2 linked regions of the Homo sapiens genome follow. Each later gene encodes a partner of the first gene's protein in a complex. Each region holds a gene or a part of one and is shown on either strand. Other genes may lie near its edges.

Region 1 (3,812 bases):
CAGCCTGGCCAACATGTTGAGATGTCATCTCTATAAAAATACGAAAATTAACCGAGCATGGTGGTATCCGTCTGTCATTCTAGCTACTTGAGAGGCTGAGGCAGGAGAATCACTTGAACCTGGGAATCGGAGGTTGCGGTGAGCCAAGATTGCGCCACTGTTCTTTAGCCTGGGTGATAGAGTGAGATTCTGTCTCAAAACAAACAAACTAACTAAATAAATAAAAATATAAAAATTAGCCAGGTGTGGTGGCAGGTGCCTATAATCCCAGCTACTCAGGAGGCTGAGGCGGGAGAATTGCTTGAACCTGGGAGGCGGAGGCTGCAGTGAGCCGAGATTGTGCCACTCCACTCCAGCCTGGTAGACAGAGCAAGATGCCATCTCAAAACAAACAAAAAGCCAACTTAATTGTTACGTGATAGTTAAGCCAGTATGCATCCCAGAACCATTAATATGTAATTTTTTGAGATTTTTCTACAGCTGGGTCTGGCAGCCTATTTTTGTAAATAAATTTTATTGGAACACTGCTGTTCATTTACATGTCTGTGGCAGATTTCTAGTTAATATTGCAGAGTAGGTGAACAGGAAACAAGACCTACAAAGCCTAACGGATTACTATATGGCCTTATAAGAAAAATTTGCGGCCGGGTGCGGGGGTCACCCCTGTAATCCTAGCACTTTGGGAGGCTGAGGCGGGTAAATCACGAGGTCAGGAGTTCAAGACCAGCCTGGCCAAGATGGTGAAACCCCATCTCTACTAAAAATACAAAAATTAGCTGGGCGTGGTGGCGGGCTTCTGTAATCCCAGCTACTTGGGAGGCTGAGGCAGAGAATTGCTTGAACCTGGGAGGCGGAAGTTGCGGTAAGCCAAGATCATGCCACTGCACTCCAGCCTGGATAACAGAGCGAGACTCTGTCTCAAAGAAAAAAAAAAAAAAAAAAAGAAAAATTTGCTGGCTGGGTGTGGTGGCTCACGCCTATAATCCCAGCACTTTGGGAGGTGGGTGGATCGCCTGAGGTCAGGAGTTCGAGACCAGCCTGACTGACATGGAGAAACCCTGTCTCTACTAAAAATACAGAATTAGCTGGGCGTGATGGCGCATGGCTGTAATCCCAGCTACTCGAGAGGCTGAGGCAGGAGAATCACTTGAACCTGGGAGGTGGAGGTTGCAGTGAGCCAAGATCGCGCCATTGCACTCCAGCCTGGGCAACAAGAGCAAAACTCCGTCTCAAAAAAAAAAAAAAAAAGAAAAAAAAATTTGCTGACATATGTTCTAGAGCAAAACGTTTGCAAACTGAGGTTTATGAATATAAATTTATCTGGAAAATAAAAAGTGCTTTGCTTTAAAATAAACAAGATTTATAACAGAAATAGCACTTTTTATAATAGTGTAGGTTTGGGATGATCTAAGTCATTAAGGTTTAGTACTTAATGGGTCAAGAGATTTTTCTTTTCTTTTTTTTTTTTTTGAGATGGAGTCTTGTACTGTCACCTGGGCTGGAGTGCCATGGCACAATCTCAGCTCACTGCAACCTCTGCTTCCCGGGTTCAAGCAATTCTGCCTCAGCCTCCCAAGTAGTTGGGATTACAGGCACCTGCCACCATGCCCAGCTAATTTTTTGTATTTTTTCTTTTTTTTAGTAGAGATGGGGTTTCACTATGTTGGCCAGGCTGGTCTCAAAACTCCTGACCCTGTGATCCACCCGCCTCGGCCTCCCAAAGTGCTGGGATTACAGGCGTGAGCCACTCTGACCGGCGGAGATTTTTCTAATGGTTCCTTAATTAAAATAAATTATGTATCCCTGTAATTACCATATGAAGCCCCCCAGAGGACGACATTTTCTTTTTTCCTTTGAAATGAAGTCTTGCACTGTCACCAAGGCTGGCGTGCAATGGGACGATCTTGGCTCGCTGCGATCTCTGCCTCCTGGGTTCAAGTGATTCTCCTGTCTACCCTTCCTGAGTAGCTGGGATTACAGCTGTGCACCGCCACGGCTGGCTAATTTTTTGTATTTTTAGTAGAGACAGGGTTTCACCCCGCTGGCCAGGCTGGTCTCAAACTCCTGACCCGAAGTGATCCACCCTCCTCGGCCTTCCAAAGTGCTGGGATTGCAGGAGTGAGCCACCGCGCCCGACCTAAGGAGGCATTTTTTTTTTTGAGACGGAGTCTCACTCTGTTGCCAAGCTGGAGTGCAGTGGTGTGATCTCAGTGCAATGCAACCTCCGCCTCCCTTGTTCAAGCAATTCTCCTGCCTCAACCTCCCGAGTAGCTGGGATTACAGGCACGCGCCACCACGCCCAGCTAATTTTTGTATTTTTAGTAGAGACGGGGTTTCACCATGTTGGCCAGGATGGTGTCGATCTCCTGACCTCATGTTCCAGCCGCCTTGGCCTCCCAAAGTGCTGGGATTACAGGCGTGAGCCACTGTGCCCGGCCCCTAAGGAGGCATTTTCTTACTGAGTTCCATTATTACCAATTTTCTTTTAGTTAAGTTTGAAATTCAATTATTTGGACTCTTGTTTATAGTTTGCTTTTGTTGTGTGATTCATAAGAGGTTGACAATTTTATGTTGGGTTAGATTTTTAGAATGTATTTACCCAAAGCTCTGGTATTTGATAGAACTATTTTTGTCTTACAGATTATTTGCCCTACCTGAAAACTGCTTACTGCAAAACTCTGATGTTATATCTAAATCTCAGGTCTCATTCAGCAGCTATTGCAATGTTAACTTTGTTTTCTTCTTTATTTTGCAGATGTATGTCCATCCCTGTGACGATGAGGGCTATTCGGAGGAAAGCTGAAACCATTCAAGCCGACACCCCAGCACTGTCCCTCATTGCAGAGACAGTTGAAGACATGGTGAAAAAGAACCTGCCCCCGGCTAGCAGCCCAGGGTATGGCATGACCACAGGCAACAACCCAATGAGTGGTACCACTACACCAACCAACACCTTTCCGGGGGGTCCCATTACCACCTTGTTTAATATGAGCATGAGCATCAAAGATCGGCATGAGTCGGTGGGCCATGGGGAGGACTTCAGCAAGGTGTCTCAGAACCCAATTCTTACCAGTTTGTTGCAAATCACAGGGAACGGGGGGTCTACCATTGGCTCGAGTCCGACCCCTCCTCATCACACGCCGCCACCTGTCTCTTCGATGGCCGGCAACACCAAGAACCACCCGATGCTCATGAACCTTCTTAAAGATAATCCTGCCCAGGATTTCTCAACCCTTTATGGAAGCAGCCCTTTAGAAAGGCAGAACTCCTCTTCCGGCTCACCCCGCATGGAAATATGCTCGGGGAGCAACAAGACCAAGAAAAAGAAGTCATCAAGATTACCACCTGAGAAACCAAAGCACCAGACTGAAGATGACTTTCAGAGGGAGCTATTTTCAATGGATGTTGACTCACAGAACCCTATCTTTGATGTCAACATGACAGCTGACACGCTGGATACGCCACACATCACTCCAGCTCCAAGCCAGTGTAGCACTCCCCCAACAACTTACCCACAACCAGTACCTCACCCCCAACCCAGTATTCAAAGGATGGTCCGACTATCCAGTTCAGACAGCATTGGCCCAGATGTAACTGACATCCTTTCAGACATTGCAGAAGAAGCTTCTAAACTTCCCAGCACTAGTGATGATTGCCCAGCCATTGGCACCCCTCTTCGAGATTCTTCAAGCTCTGGGCATTCTCAGAGTACCCTGTTTGACTCTGATGTCTTTCAAACTAACAATAATGAAAATCCATACACTGATCCAGCTGATCTTATTGCAGATGCTGCTGGAAGCCCCAGTAGTGAC
Region 2 (3,812 bases), on another chromosome or scaffold:
GTGCGCCCCTGACCAGGGCTCCAACCTCGCCCCCACCCCCCCGCCGGTACACTCTGTCCTGCCCCAGCTGTGATTTCTTCTGCCCCACCCACCCGGCTTCATCCTGCCCTGGGGCCCGCCCTTCTCCACCGCGCCCATCACGGACGGTTTGAAGTCCCTCTCTTCTTTTTGTGGGGCTTTAGGCTGCCAGGGGCCACCCCTGGGGCCTCCCTTCCCTGGTCCTCTCAGCTCCCAGTACAGTCACCAGGGGCCCGGGCCCGCAGCTGTAGGAGGGGGCGGCTGCTCCTCCACGTGCAGGTGGGGATATTGGCCTCAGCCAGAGCCTCGTCTTAGTCTTGTGGACTCTCAGGGATGGGACGACTCTGCAAATGGGGCTGTCCTGGGCCCTGCAGGGCTCTGAGCAGCGTCCCCGGCATCCACCCACTCGGTGCCAGAAGCACCCCAGTCCTGACCACCACAAATGTCCCAGACCCTGCCCATTGCCCCCCGGTCGGGGTTCCACCGACCCCAAGACACTTCATCCCATCGCCATCTGCCCCCCGCCGCCCCAGCCACACCGATGCCTCTTTCGGGCAGGGTTCCCTGCTGAGGCCGGGCCACAGCTTTCTGCGGGACGGCACCTCGCTGGGCATGCTTCGGGAATTGATGGTGGTCATCCGCATCTGGGGCCTTCTGAAGCCCAGCTGCCTGCCCGTGTATACGGCCACCTCGGATACCCAGGACAGCATGTCCCTGCTCTTCCGCCTGCTCACCAAGCTCTGGATCTGCTGTGAGGCACCCCCGCCCGCCCCTCCCCTCTCCCCGCTCCCCGCTCTCCCCTCTCCCCGCTCCCCGCTCCCCGCTCTCCCCTCTCCCCGCTCTCCCCTCTCCCCGCTCTCCCCTCTCCCCGCTCTCCCTTCTCCCCGCTCTCCCCTCTCCCCTCTCCCCGCTCCCCTCTCCCTACCAAAACACAAGTCCTGCCTGAGCCCCCCGCCAGAACATAAGCCCCTGCAGGTGGCAGTGGCTCTGCCTTGATATCTGCTATTTCCCCAGTTCCTAGCACAGGTCCATGCTCTGTGTGGGTGCTTTTGGGATGGCAGCCACTTCCAGGCACCTGTTTGCTGTCTCTCCTTGTCGGGTTGTGTGTATGTGAGGAGGGTGAGCTGTGTCATTCTTACATCCCAGTGTCTGGAAAAGGCACAGTGCTTCCCACATACTTTTTAAGTGAATGAGGGAGTCTCATGACAGGCCAGAGACGGGGAGAGAACTCTGGGGTCACCCAGCCAGGCAGGCAGAGCCGGGGCCCCGACCTGGTGAGAGAACCCCGGGGTCACCCAGCCAGGCAGACAGAGCTGGGGCCCTGACCTGGTGCTCCTGAACTGGAGGGGCTCCCAGCACGTCCCGGGTGGCCGGGCGGTGCCCCAGTCAGGGGTGCTGAGACTTCCGCCACCTCTCTCCGCAGGTCGCGATGAGGGCCCAGCGAGCGAGCCGGACGAGGCGCTGGTGGATGAATGCTGCCTGCTGCCCAGCCAGCTGCTTATCCCCAGCCTGGACTGGCTGCCAGCCAGCGACGGCCTGGTTAGCCGCCTGCAGCCCAAGCAGCCCCTTCGTCTGCAGTTTGGCCGGGCGCCCACGCTGCCTGGCAGTGCTGCCACCCTGCAGCTCGACGGCCTCGCCAGGTGCGTGTGTCCCTGCATTGGTCCCCAAACACAGGACTCCTTCCTCCGTGTCCTGCCCCGGGACCCCCGAATCCACACGGCTCCCTCCCTGCATGTCCTGCCCCAGGTCCCCCCGAATCCACACGGCTCCCCGCCTCCATGTCCTGCCCGGGACCCCCCGAATCCACACGGCTCCCTCCCTCCATGTCCTGCCCCGGGACCCCCCGAATCCACACGGCTCCCTCCCTCCATGTCCTGCCCCGGGTCCCCCCGAATCCACACGGCTCCCTCCCTCCATGTCCTGCCCCAGGACCCCCCCGAATCCATACGGCTCCTTCCCTCCATGTTCTCCAGTCATGGCCATGACTGCTGCTTCCTTCTAGGTGCCCCTAACTCCATCCCCTAGTGGTGTCTTCTGCTGTGTCACGAACCACCCCCAACACGGGCACCCAGCCCTTCCATTCACCCTCTCCCTTTTTTTTTTTTTTTTTGTCTCCCCGACAGGGTCTCACTCTGTTGCCCAGGCTGGAGTGCAGTAGTGCCGTCTTGGCCCACTGCAACGTCTGCCTCTCGGGTTCAAATGATTCTCCTACCTCAGCCTTCCCAGTAGCTGGGATTACAGGCATGAGCCACCACACCTAGGTATTTTTTGTATTTTTGGTATAGAGGCGGTTTTGCAATGTTGGCCAGGCTGGTCTTGAACTCCTGACCTCAGGTGATCCACCTGCCTCGCCCTCCCAAAGTGCTGGGATTACAGGTGTGAGCCACCGCCCCGGCCTTGCCTTGGTGTTTCCTGATTGTGTGTTGGCCTCGCTGTACAGGGCGCCCTGCCTTAGCCTCTGCCCTTAGTCTCTGGCCCCCCTGGATGTCAGGCCTCGCCGTAGATCCCTCTGTGGATGGAGAGAGACGCCTTAGCATATGGCCCAGGGCCCTGCTGAGCAGACACCTCATCAGGAGGATCTCCCGGGGGCAAGAGGTCACCTTGCAGGGCCCGGGGCTGGCCTTTCTCTGGAATGTGCGGGGTTTGGGCAACCCAAGTGTGCTGAGCTGACCCTGGCTGCCCAGCAGCCCTGTGAGGTGGGACCTTGTCACCCCATTTCACGGTGAGGAAACCCAGCCTGGAAAGGGTGGGACCTTGTCACCCCACTCATCTGGGGTCACGCGGTCAGGAAGTGGCCGAGTCAGGATTTGAACCCAGGCCCGTCAGACCCCCAGCCTGTTTCAGACACACGTTTGACAAGGAGCACATGCAAACCCTCTGAGCCACTGATTGCTCAGGGCTGGAATTTTAGAAAACACAGATGAGCAAAAGGAAGAAAATGAAGTGAACCTCCAGCAGCCCTGCTCCGGGGAAGGCCCCGGCTCGGCTCCAGGACCTCCAGGGAAGGCACCCCCGGCTTGGCTCCGGGACCTCCGGGAAGGCGCCCTGGCTTGGCTCTAGGACCTCCAGCATTTTCTTCCTCGTGCTCACTGTGGGAGGGGCCTCCTAATGAGTCACACACGAGGGTTTGGGTTTCAGGAAAAGACTTGATGGAAAGAGAGGACGGTTACGTCAGAGGCTTGTAAACTGGGAAAATTTCAGATATTTAATGAGAGCAGAATAAGCCGGCCCACCCCCACCCAGACCCAGGTCCCCCACCCACCACCGAGGGCAGCTTTTGCCACCAGAATCTTGTCGTTCAGAGGTCCCGGCACCTCCAGGCCGGGTGTCTGGGCAGAGGTGGTGTGGAAGTCCCCATGTACCTGCTTCTGTCCAGCCTCAAATGGGAGCGTCACAAGCACCTTCCCTGCACCTCAGGCTCCCCGGGCACGTGGCGGACCGACCCTCGTCCCTGTGTGGGCCCCGTCCCCTTTACTGGGTCTCTAAGCCTCAAGCTCCCCAGGCACCTGGGAGACCAACCCTCCTCCGTGTGGGGGGTCCCGCCCCCTTTACTGGGCCTGTCTCAGGTGGTCCCGCACCTCCCACCTCACTGTTCACAGACATCTGGGCCCACCTGGCAGATGGTGTGAGGCCGGCCATTCCCTCCACCCCCGCCTGTGGACAGATGCCCCTGCCGGAACCTGGCCTCGTGGTGCCCAGGCCTCCCTCACGTTCTCCCCTCTCCCGCCAGGGCCCCAGGCCAGCCCAAGATCGACCACCTGCGGAGGCTGCACCTTGGCGCTTGCCCCACGGAG

The links.
Region 2: MED1 (region 1) and MED16 share a complex: the UniProt entries of both Homo sapiens proteins name them as parts of the mediator complex.

Annotation. Positions count from the first base shown.
Region 1 is NC_000017.11:39,409,665-39,413,476, reverse strand, and holds part of MED1 (mediator of RNA polymerase II transcription subunit 1), read left to right. Parts: intron 1-2,755; coding exon 2,756-3,812. UniProt on the Homo sapiens protein: Component of the Mediator complex, a coactivator involved in the regulated transcription of nearly all RNA polymerase II-dependent genes.
Region 2 is NC_000019.10:868,883-872,694, reverse strand, and holds part of MED16 (mediator of RNA polymerase II transcription subunit 16), read left to right. Parts: intron 1-576; coding exon 577-769; intron 770-1,441; coding exon 1,442-1,658; intron 1,659-3,748; coding exon 3,749-3,812. UniProt on the Homo sapiens protein: Component of the Mediator complex, a coactivator involved in the regulated transcription of nearly all RNA polymerase II-dependent genes.